Regions from separate parts of the Homo sapiens genome. Here region 1 is linked to region 2. Evidence: fine-mapped expression QTL. A gene starts in region 2. The other region holds a variant in brackets. All regions are shown on one strand. Distances are from middle to middle. Region 1 holds the start of RPP14 (ribonuclease P/MRP subunit p14). Region 2 holds the start of PXK (PX domain containing serine/threonine kinase like).

Region 1 (4,000 bases), 28 kb before region 2:
CATCGTCAAGAGGTAAAAGCCCCCATATCATATTTTTCAGGGGACACTTAAGAAACTCATACTAGTTGTTGCTCCTGGAGAGGGGAGAGGCTGACAGGGGAAGAGGTGGAAGGGAGACTCACTTTTTAATATCTATCCCTTTATGTCATTTGAAATGTATGCTGTAAGCCTACAGTACCTATTCAGAAGATAAAATTTAGGCATGGTGCAGTGCCTCACACCTGTAATCCCAGCATTTTGGGAGGCCAACGCAGAAGGATCGCTTGAGCCTAGGAGTTCAAGACCAGCCTGAGCAACATGGTGAGACCCTGTTTCTACAAAAAAATTAAAAATTAGCTGGCCATGGTGGCATGCACCTGTAGTCCCAGCTACTTGGGAGGCTGGGGTGGGAGGATCGGTTGAGCCTGGGAGGTTGAGGCTACAGTGACCCATGATCACATTATTGTACTACAGTCTGGGTGACAGTGAGACACTGTCCAAAAACGATTTTTTAATATAAAATTTAGTTGAAAAACAAAAGTTTTTTTTTGTTTTTTGTTTTGTTTTGTTTGTTGGCAGAGTCTCGCTCTGTCATCTCGGCTAGAGTGCAGTGGCGTGATCTCAGCTTACTGCAACCTCTGCCTCCTGGGTTCAAGCAATTCTCCTGCCTCAGCCTCCCGAGTAGCTGGGATTACAGGTGCGCACCATCACACCCAGCTAATTTTTGTATTTTTAGTAGAGACAGGGTTTCGCCATGTTGGCCAGGCTGGTCTTGAACTCCTGACCTCAGGTGTTCTGCCCACCTCGGCCTCCTAAAGTGCTGGATTACAGGCCTGAGCCACAACACCCAGCCAAAAAACAAGTTTTTTGTCTTTATCATTCAAAGGCATCTCTTTTATCCTCCGCTCTGAATTAATAAGACAGCATGAGAGAATTCAGGCAACTGGGAAGACACTTCATTTTCAGGGTTTGTTGCAGCAGGGTGAAAATTATCTATTGTTCCTTGAAGTTCAAAATACAGGAATTGCTCTGGTTTTCCTGGGCCACCTGGCAGGATACATTTGCCAGGCAGCTGGCTTACAGGAACCCTCTCCCATTACTGAGGGTTTCCTGGGGTGCCAGACACTTTATACCATCAACTCTTTTTCCCTCAACTCTGTGAGGTAGATGCTAATAATCTCTCCATGTGACAGATGAGGGAGGTAGGTAAGTGGCAGAGGATGCATTTGAAGCAAGTTCTGGCAGCTTCTGAAATCAAGCTTTTTTGAGAAAGATAATACTTGGGTCTGTGGGGTCTGTGTTTGCTTTCTCCACCTCTTCCCACATCTGGAACAAGCCCTGTCTCCTCTGAAGGAAGAAGAAAGTAGGAACCACAGAACTGGAGAGCATGGCCAAGGTTGAGGACTGAAGCTTCTGGAAACAACACAGTGGGATTTTGAGAAAATAATTGAGGAAGGAGATCCCCGCTGACTCAACTGTCCTGTGCAAGGCAACCCTTTGCCCCCCAACCCAAGCAAAACCAGCACATCCATTTATGAACAAATGCCTTCAGTAAATAGATGTTGGGTCACCATTGGGTACCAGGAACTGGGATGCAGTGGTGAGAAACACAGACAAGGCCCCATCCTCATGGGGGTTACACTAAAGTTTCCCTTCCCACTGCAGCCCCTCAATTGGTGGTAATACAGTGCAGTATGGAGAGCACTGGCTAGAATCAGACAGCCCATGCCACTGCTTATAACTGTGATCTTGAGCAAATAACTTAGCCTCTCTGTGCCTCAGTTTCTTTTCCTGTTGCCAGGCTAGAGTGCAGTGGTGTGATCTCGGCTTACTGCAACCTCTACCTCCCAGGTTCAAGCAATTCTCCTGCTTCAGCCTCCCGAGTAACTGGGATTACAGGTGTGCACCACCGTGCCCAGCTAATTTTTGTATTTTCAGTAGAGATGGGGGTCTCACCATGCTGGCCAGGCTGGTCTCGAATTCCTGGCCTCAAGTGATCTGCCCGCCTCAGCCTCCCAAAGTGCTGGAATTACAGGCATGAGCCACTGCGCCTGGCCTGTGCCTCAGTTTCTACCTCTAAAATGGTGATGATCATAGTAATAGCCATCTCAGGATTGTGTGAGGGTTCCATGAGATGACATATGTAAAATATTTTGCATAGTGCCTAGCACAAAGTAAGTCTTTACTTTGTGGGTCTTTCCAGGACGGCCTAGATAGAACACCTACTATGTGCTGGGAGTCACAAGGGACACTGAGAGTGGGTCCTATCTTTGGGGAGTGCTTGACATAGGAGATCTTGAGGAGAGGAGATGCTAGATATAA[T/A]TTTGTAGGCTGGGCGCGGTGGCTCACGTCTGTAATCCCAACACTTTGGGAGGCGAGGTGGGTGGATTGCCTGAAGTCAGGAGTTTGAGACCTGCTTGGCTAACATAGTGAAACCCTGTCTCTACTAAAAATACAAAAATTAGGCCAGGCGCGGTGGCTCACGCCTGTAATCCCAACACTTTGGGAGGCCGAGGTGGACAGATCACGAGGTCAAGAGATTGAGACCATGCTGGCCAACATGGTGAAACCTCGTCTCGACTAAAAATACAAAAATTAGCTGGGCATGGTGGTGCATGCCTGTAGTCCCAGCTACTTGGGAGGCTGAGGCAGAAGAATCACTTGAAGGGAGGCGGAGGGTGCAGTGAGCCAAGATGGCGCCACTGCACTCCAGCCTGGGCGACAGAGCGAGACTCCATCTCAATAAATAAATTATAATATAATGAAAAAAATGTGTAGAATGACTCGGGCGCAGTTGCTCACGTCTGTAATCCCAGCACTTTGGGAGGCCAAGGTGGGCAGATCACTTGAGGCGAGGAGTTCGAGACCAGCCTGGCCAACATGGTGAAACCCCGTCTCTACTAAAAATACAAAAATTAGCCAGGCATGGTGGAGCATACCTGTAGTCCTAGCTACTCAGGAGGCTGAGGTGGGAGAATCGCTTGAGCCCTGGAGGCGGAGGTAGCAGTAAGCCAGATCGCGCCAGTGCACTCCAGCCTGGGCGACAGAGTGAAACTGTCTCAAAAAAACAACGAAAAAATTGTTGAATGAATGAATGAATGCATGAAGAAATGGATAACTATGAAGCACCGTCCAAGGCGGAAAAAACCCGCCCTAAACCGCACCCCAAGCAAATTGCACACACGGCTTTCCCGGAGTGGACACCAGAGGGCGCTGAGCTCGGCCGCTCTCAGCTCCGGATCAGGATTCGCGCCTGGGTCCTTAGGACGACGCCGCGTGGTGACGTCATATCCGCCTGGGCGTCACGCTTCGTGGGGCGGGACGAGGAGAAGCCAAACGTAAAGACACCAGGAGTTTCTCGGGCCCAGCTGTGGCTGCTGCCGGGGAGCCCCAAGCCTTGGCGGGTCCTTGCGGCGAATAGGAGTCTGGTCAGGCGTCAGGCTAGTCCGACGAAGAGTGGGTAGGTGGAAGCCTTCCAAAGAGCGGCGGTTGTCTGGGAGCCGTCTCAGTTGGCCGCGACCCGGGCGCATGCGCGGGGCGGGCGGTGCGCCTTGGGTAGCTTGTCCTCTCCGACCCCGGGCGCTGAGGGCCTCTGTACGGCGCCGCGTAGGGTCTCGGCCGCAGAACGTGGCCGAGAGGCCCGGGCGAGACTTCGGGACCGTGTCCTGAGCGCTCTCCATGCGCCCGGCGCGAGGTGAGCGCTAAATAGTGGTTGTTGAAAAATATTGAAAGCCACCCAAGTGCTCAGCAGTAAGGATATTGAGCTTTTTAAAGTGATTGATTTAGTCCAAAAATTGTACGTCGCACGCCCACTGTGCACGACCCAGTGTTTTAGGGCCTTGGGAAACAGCAGTGAACAAGATAGCAAGATTCTTGGAGTGGACTTTTGTTGGGGTGGGGAGGGGAAGTACAGATAAAGATAAACGAGTTACATAATTGTCATAGAAAAAGGCAAATGCTACGAAGAAGAAAGCAGGGACGGGGCATGGGGGTGGGGTGCGGTGTTAGCCGAGAAGGGCAC
Region 2 (4,513 bases):
TGATTATAGCTGGATTTTGGTTTCTGTGACTCTGGCAGAGAAATAATCTATTTGCCTTAAAACAAAGAAATGAAAGTAAAAAGTTGAATCCTCCCTAAATGACATATGGTTTTGCTTTAATAGACTGCTGCTTTTAAACACACTGGCACAAAAGTGGAATGGAGGGAGAGTTCTGATTATTTTAGGGCTGAATCATGAAGGTCCAGGATTCCTTCTTCACATCTCGCTCTATTAGATCTTGGCCCCTGGGACCAATCTCATGGCTACTTGACTCAACGGGGCTGCCCACCAATCCCAATAAGCTTGAGATCTGGAGAAGGGACCCTTTATGTATGATGTGGGCCTTTCCTGTGATGTCAAATTTTGGTGGTGGTGGTGGGATTACCAAGGAACTTTGTTCCCTTATCTGAAGTGTAGAAATTTAGTGGAGGCAAATTTAAGAGTTAGGAACCTTCCATTCTGTCAACTGTAGGGGAAGGAGGAAACTAATATTGACTTTGTTTTGTTTTTTTTTTGTTTTTCCGGAGACGGTCTTGCTCTGTTACCCAGGCTGGAGTGAAGTGGCATGATCATGGCTCACTGCGGCTTCAACCTCCTGTGCTCAAAAAACTCTCCCACCTCAGCCTCCTGAGTAGTTGGGACCACAGGTGTGAGCCATCATGCCCAGGTATTTTTAAAATTTTTTTGTAGAGACGGGGTCTCACCATATTGCCCAGGCTAAACTCCTGGACTCAAGCCATCCACTCTCCTCAGCCTCCCAAAGTGCTGGAATTACAAAGGTGAGCCATCATGCCTGACCACGGTTTGAGGTGTTTTTGTTTGTCTGTTTTTTTGTTTGTTTTTTGAGACAGAGTCTCACTCTGTCACCCAGGCTGGAGTGTAGTGGTATGATCTTGGCTCACTGCAACCTCCCCCTCCCGGGTTCAAGCAATTCTCCTGCCTCAGCCTCCAGAGTAGCTGGGTCTACAGGCACGTGCCACCATGCCCAGCTAATTTTTATATTTTTAGTAGAGGGGGTTTTGCCATGTTGGCCAGGCTGGTCTCAAATTCCTGACCTCAGGTGATCCACCCACCTTGGCTTCCCAAAGTGCTGGGATTACAAGCGTGAGCGATCATGCCTGACCACCGTTTGAGTTTTTACTATGTGCCAAGCCCCTTCCCAGTCTACTGCATTCCTTGTATTAACCTTTTCATACAAATAATATTATCTCCACTTTGCAAATTGGGGAGTTGGGACTCAGAGAGGTTGGGTAACTTATTGAAGATCACACAGCTGGTAAATGCCAGAGCCATGGAGATGATGGTCCTCCAATTCTAAATTTAACTCTTCACTATCCTGGAATGCTGCCCTAGGAGAGGGCAGTGTGGGTGAAATTTCTAGGTGTATATGGAGATGGGGGGGATGAGGTGGTGCCAGGATTATGGCTTTGGGTTCAGGCAGACTGTGGGCAGATTTAGGGCTGAGAAGTTGATCCCAAGGTTCTCTGGCTTGGCTCTTGGTTTGAAGTTCTTCTAGTCCATATGGTGGGATCAAAAACTCCCAAGTCTAAGGGATGTGGTTGAGCCCGCAGTGGGGGCCAAGAGTAGAGGCTAGGGGTCTCTGGACCATTTTATAGGGTCTCCAGTTCTTAGAGCTTGGGTCTGAGGGTTCTGGGGCCCAAGACCTCCAATTATGGGGTCCAGCTCTTAGGTGTTCAGGCCTGAGGAGCCACGTTCAAGAGTCCCTGTGAAGTTTCAATAGGAAGGGCTTGTTTCAGAAAGTCTCTGGGTTTGCAGGGCTCAGACTGGGGGTCCCATCCTAAAGGCCCTTTTTCTGAGTTTTAGGGTCCTTGGGCCTGGGGGATGAGAGAGATCCAGTTCTGAGGGTTTCAAGAGGTACGGTCCCCGAAAAGCCCAGTTCTGAGAGGCCTGGTTTGGAAATCTCGCCCTGAAGATTCCTGGATCCCAGGGCTCAGGACCAGGCGTCTCTGGATCTGAGGATCCTGGTAGTGATGGCTTAGGGTGGTGTTCCCTGGTCCGAAGCCCGGAGCTAAGGGCACCGGGTCTGCGGTGCGGCTGCGAGGAGCAGGGAAGCGCAGGCCCATGGCAGCCGCGAGGCGGAGGAGCGGGCCAGCGGGCGGCAGTGCTGGCGGCCCCCACACGTTCTGCGCTGGGTCGGCGCTAGGACTCCGGGGCGGCGGCCGTGGGAAGGGCGGCGCTAGGACCCCGCGGGCCCGGCGGCGCGTGGGGCGGCGCGTGTTGACAGCGGCGGCGGTGGAACCGGGCGGGCGGCGGGAGTCGGCGCCTCGGGTTCCTACCTCGCGTCCCTAGGCGGCGGCGGCCGGGCGTCCCGGGATGGCCTTCATGGAGAAGCCGCCAGCCGGCAAGGTGCTGCTGGACGACACGGTGCCGCTGACAGCAGCCATCGAGGCGAGCCAGAGCCTGCAGTCCCACACGGTGCGCGGCCCAGCGGGCGGGCGGGCGGCGTGGGGCGGCCCCGGGCCGCGAGGGGGCTGCGGGCTGCCTGGCGCGGGCCGGGCAGGGTCGTCGGACGGAGACCGGGCCACAGGGTGGGCGGCCCTGGCCGAGAAGGCTGTGGCGCGCCGCTGGGTCTGGGTCAGGGCCCCTGGGGCCCAGGCGAACGCTGAGGCCCGGAGGGGCCAAGGATGGGGACCGCAGCTCCCGGCGCCGCGGGGTGGAAGGAGCTCGGCGGCGACCAGGAAAGCGACTCCGAGTTGGGGGGCGGGGGCGGGGGCTGCGGGATTCCCGGGCTCACCTTGGACTAGGGGAGCAGGAACGAGACCGCTCAGGACCATCCACTTCTGCCCGCCGCCAGCCTTTTCCTTTTTGAGGCCGTGTAATTTCCTCCTTGCAGCTGAGGGTCTGGGTGATGGGGATGAGGGTGTGCCGGGCCAAATGAAGTGTGACTCCAGAGCCTACTTGTTGGGACAGCAGAGTGTAAGTGGCTGGGGTCTGCAGCCCCGTTTCCAGGTCAGCCGCTTGGCCCTGGTCCCGGGAAGTGGTGGGGGCGGCAGTCGGGGCGCTGTTAAGCAGGTGTATGAATGTGCTTCTCTAACTTGCTCTTTAGTGGGCAGTGGTAGCATTCATTTGAGTTTAAAATCCACTCGAGTAGCATAAAGGAGTAATAGGTCCTCATAGTAAACATTGGCAGGGTTCATTTCTGCTACATATACGGTCTTTTATGGGGCTTTAAAACCGTGGTTGTTTTCATTTGCTTGTACCTTTTTTTTTTTTTGAAAGGCCCACTATGCATTATAATTTCCAAGCAATAAATCTAGGAACCAGCAAGAAACCTGGAGCTATCAGCTAGTGGGACTTTTTTGGAAAAGTAATGAGTGAGGAGAGAGATTCCTTCAATTGTGATGTTTTGTCAGTCCACCGAATCAGATTCAGACTCAGAGGCTTGTTTGTTTACCATTGCAGTGTGTTTGGGGGGTCATCATCTGGAGGCTAAAGCTCACAATAGCCTTCTGTTTCTCTTTTCGTTCAAGCTCTTCTGATGACTTCAAAGAGACCTTTTATTCTGTTGTATTAAAGTGAGACTTTTTTGAACCTCAGTTTCCTCTTCTGACAGCCGTGCTTTGTAGGGCTTGAATTGTTCAAAGCATTCACTTCCAGTTAAGAAAATTATTATCTTTTTAAAAAGGGCTATTTATTTCACGCTGTGTGTCTTTAATCCTATTCTGTAGACATGTGAGAAGGCACATACAGGACAGAATTTGTTAAACTTGCTATCATTTGTGCCTAAAGGGAGTATGGCATAAGGGTTGAAATTTAGGATAGGGAGTCAAGAGTAATTCAGCTATTAAATTTGATTTTTGACTTGACTATTGGCAAGTAAGTCTTATAACCTTTCAGGGAATAGTGTCGAGTCCTTTAGGTTTATTTTGTATTGAAAATAAAGAGATAGATGTTTCTAAATACTCACAAATTACTTTCCCTAGGAAGCATTCATGATTTCTACAGCCCCAGCCCATGTGCCTACCCACACCTTAATCTTGATTAGTTTGTCCTGTAATTACTTCTTTACTTTTTGTCTCCACCAGGCTACAAGAGGAGGGGCACTTCTTCCTCACTTTTGAGTCTCATTCCCTGGTTTTTGATAGGATTTCAAATGTGTTTATCAAATGACTAAATAATCCAACTTCAACCTTACTATGCCTCTTTTTCTGTTTATGTAAAATGGTAATTGTAAACATTGAAAAAATAACTTAGAGATCAGTGCTTTAGCTAGGTGGCGAAAGATGTAATAGGATTCTGTTTTTATTGTAAGGGTGTGTGTGTGTGTGTGTGTGTGTGTGTGTCTGTGTGTGTGTGTGTGTGTGTGTGTGTAGAGACAGCGTCTCACCATGTTGTCCAGGCTGGTGTGTGTGTGTGTGTGTGTGTGTGTGTGTGTGTGTGTGTGGAGACAGCGTCTCACCATGTTGTCCAGGCTGGTCTGGAACGCCTGGGCTCAGGCCGTTCTCCTGCCTCAGCCCCACAAAGTGCTGGTATACAGATGTGAGCCACCACA

Evidence for each region. PIP is the estimated chance that this variant, and not a neighbour inherited with it, causes the effect. A credible set is the group of variants that fine-mapping cannot tell apart.
Region 1: its variant is the best candidate, but not a certain one, in a credible set for the expression of PXK in whole blood (INTERVAL, PIP 0.70).

What each region holds. Positions count from the first base shown.
Region 1 is chr3:58,302,979-58,306,978 of GRCh38, forward strand. It overlaps RPP14 (ribonuclease P/MRP subunit p14), which reads left to right and starts at 3,267. Exons shown (of 6, transcript NM_007042.6): 1 at 3,267-3,439. HTD2 (hydroxyacyl-thioester dehydratase type 2) reads left to right here and starts at 3,542. Exons shown (of 5, transcript NM_001348712.2): 1 at 3,542-3,673. RefSeq lists enhancers at 3,053-3,132, 3,323-3,582, 3,703-3,832. The variant T/A (reference allele first, on the strand shown) is at 2,302.
Region 2 is chr3:58,330,655-58,335,167 of GRCh38, forward strand. PXK (PX domain containing serine/threonine kinase like) reads left to right here and starts at 2,238. Exons shown (of 18, transcript NM_017771.5): 1 at 2,238-2,436. The coding sequence starts at 2,335. RefSeq lists silencers at 2,012-2,541, 2,788-3,082.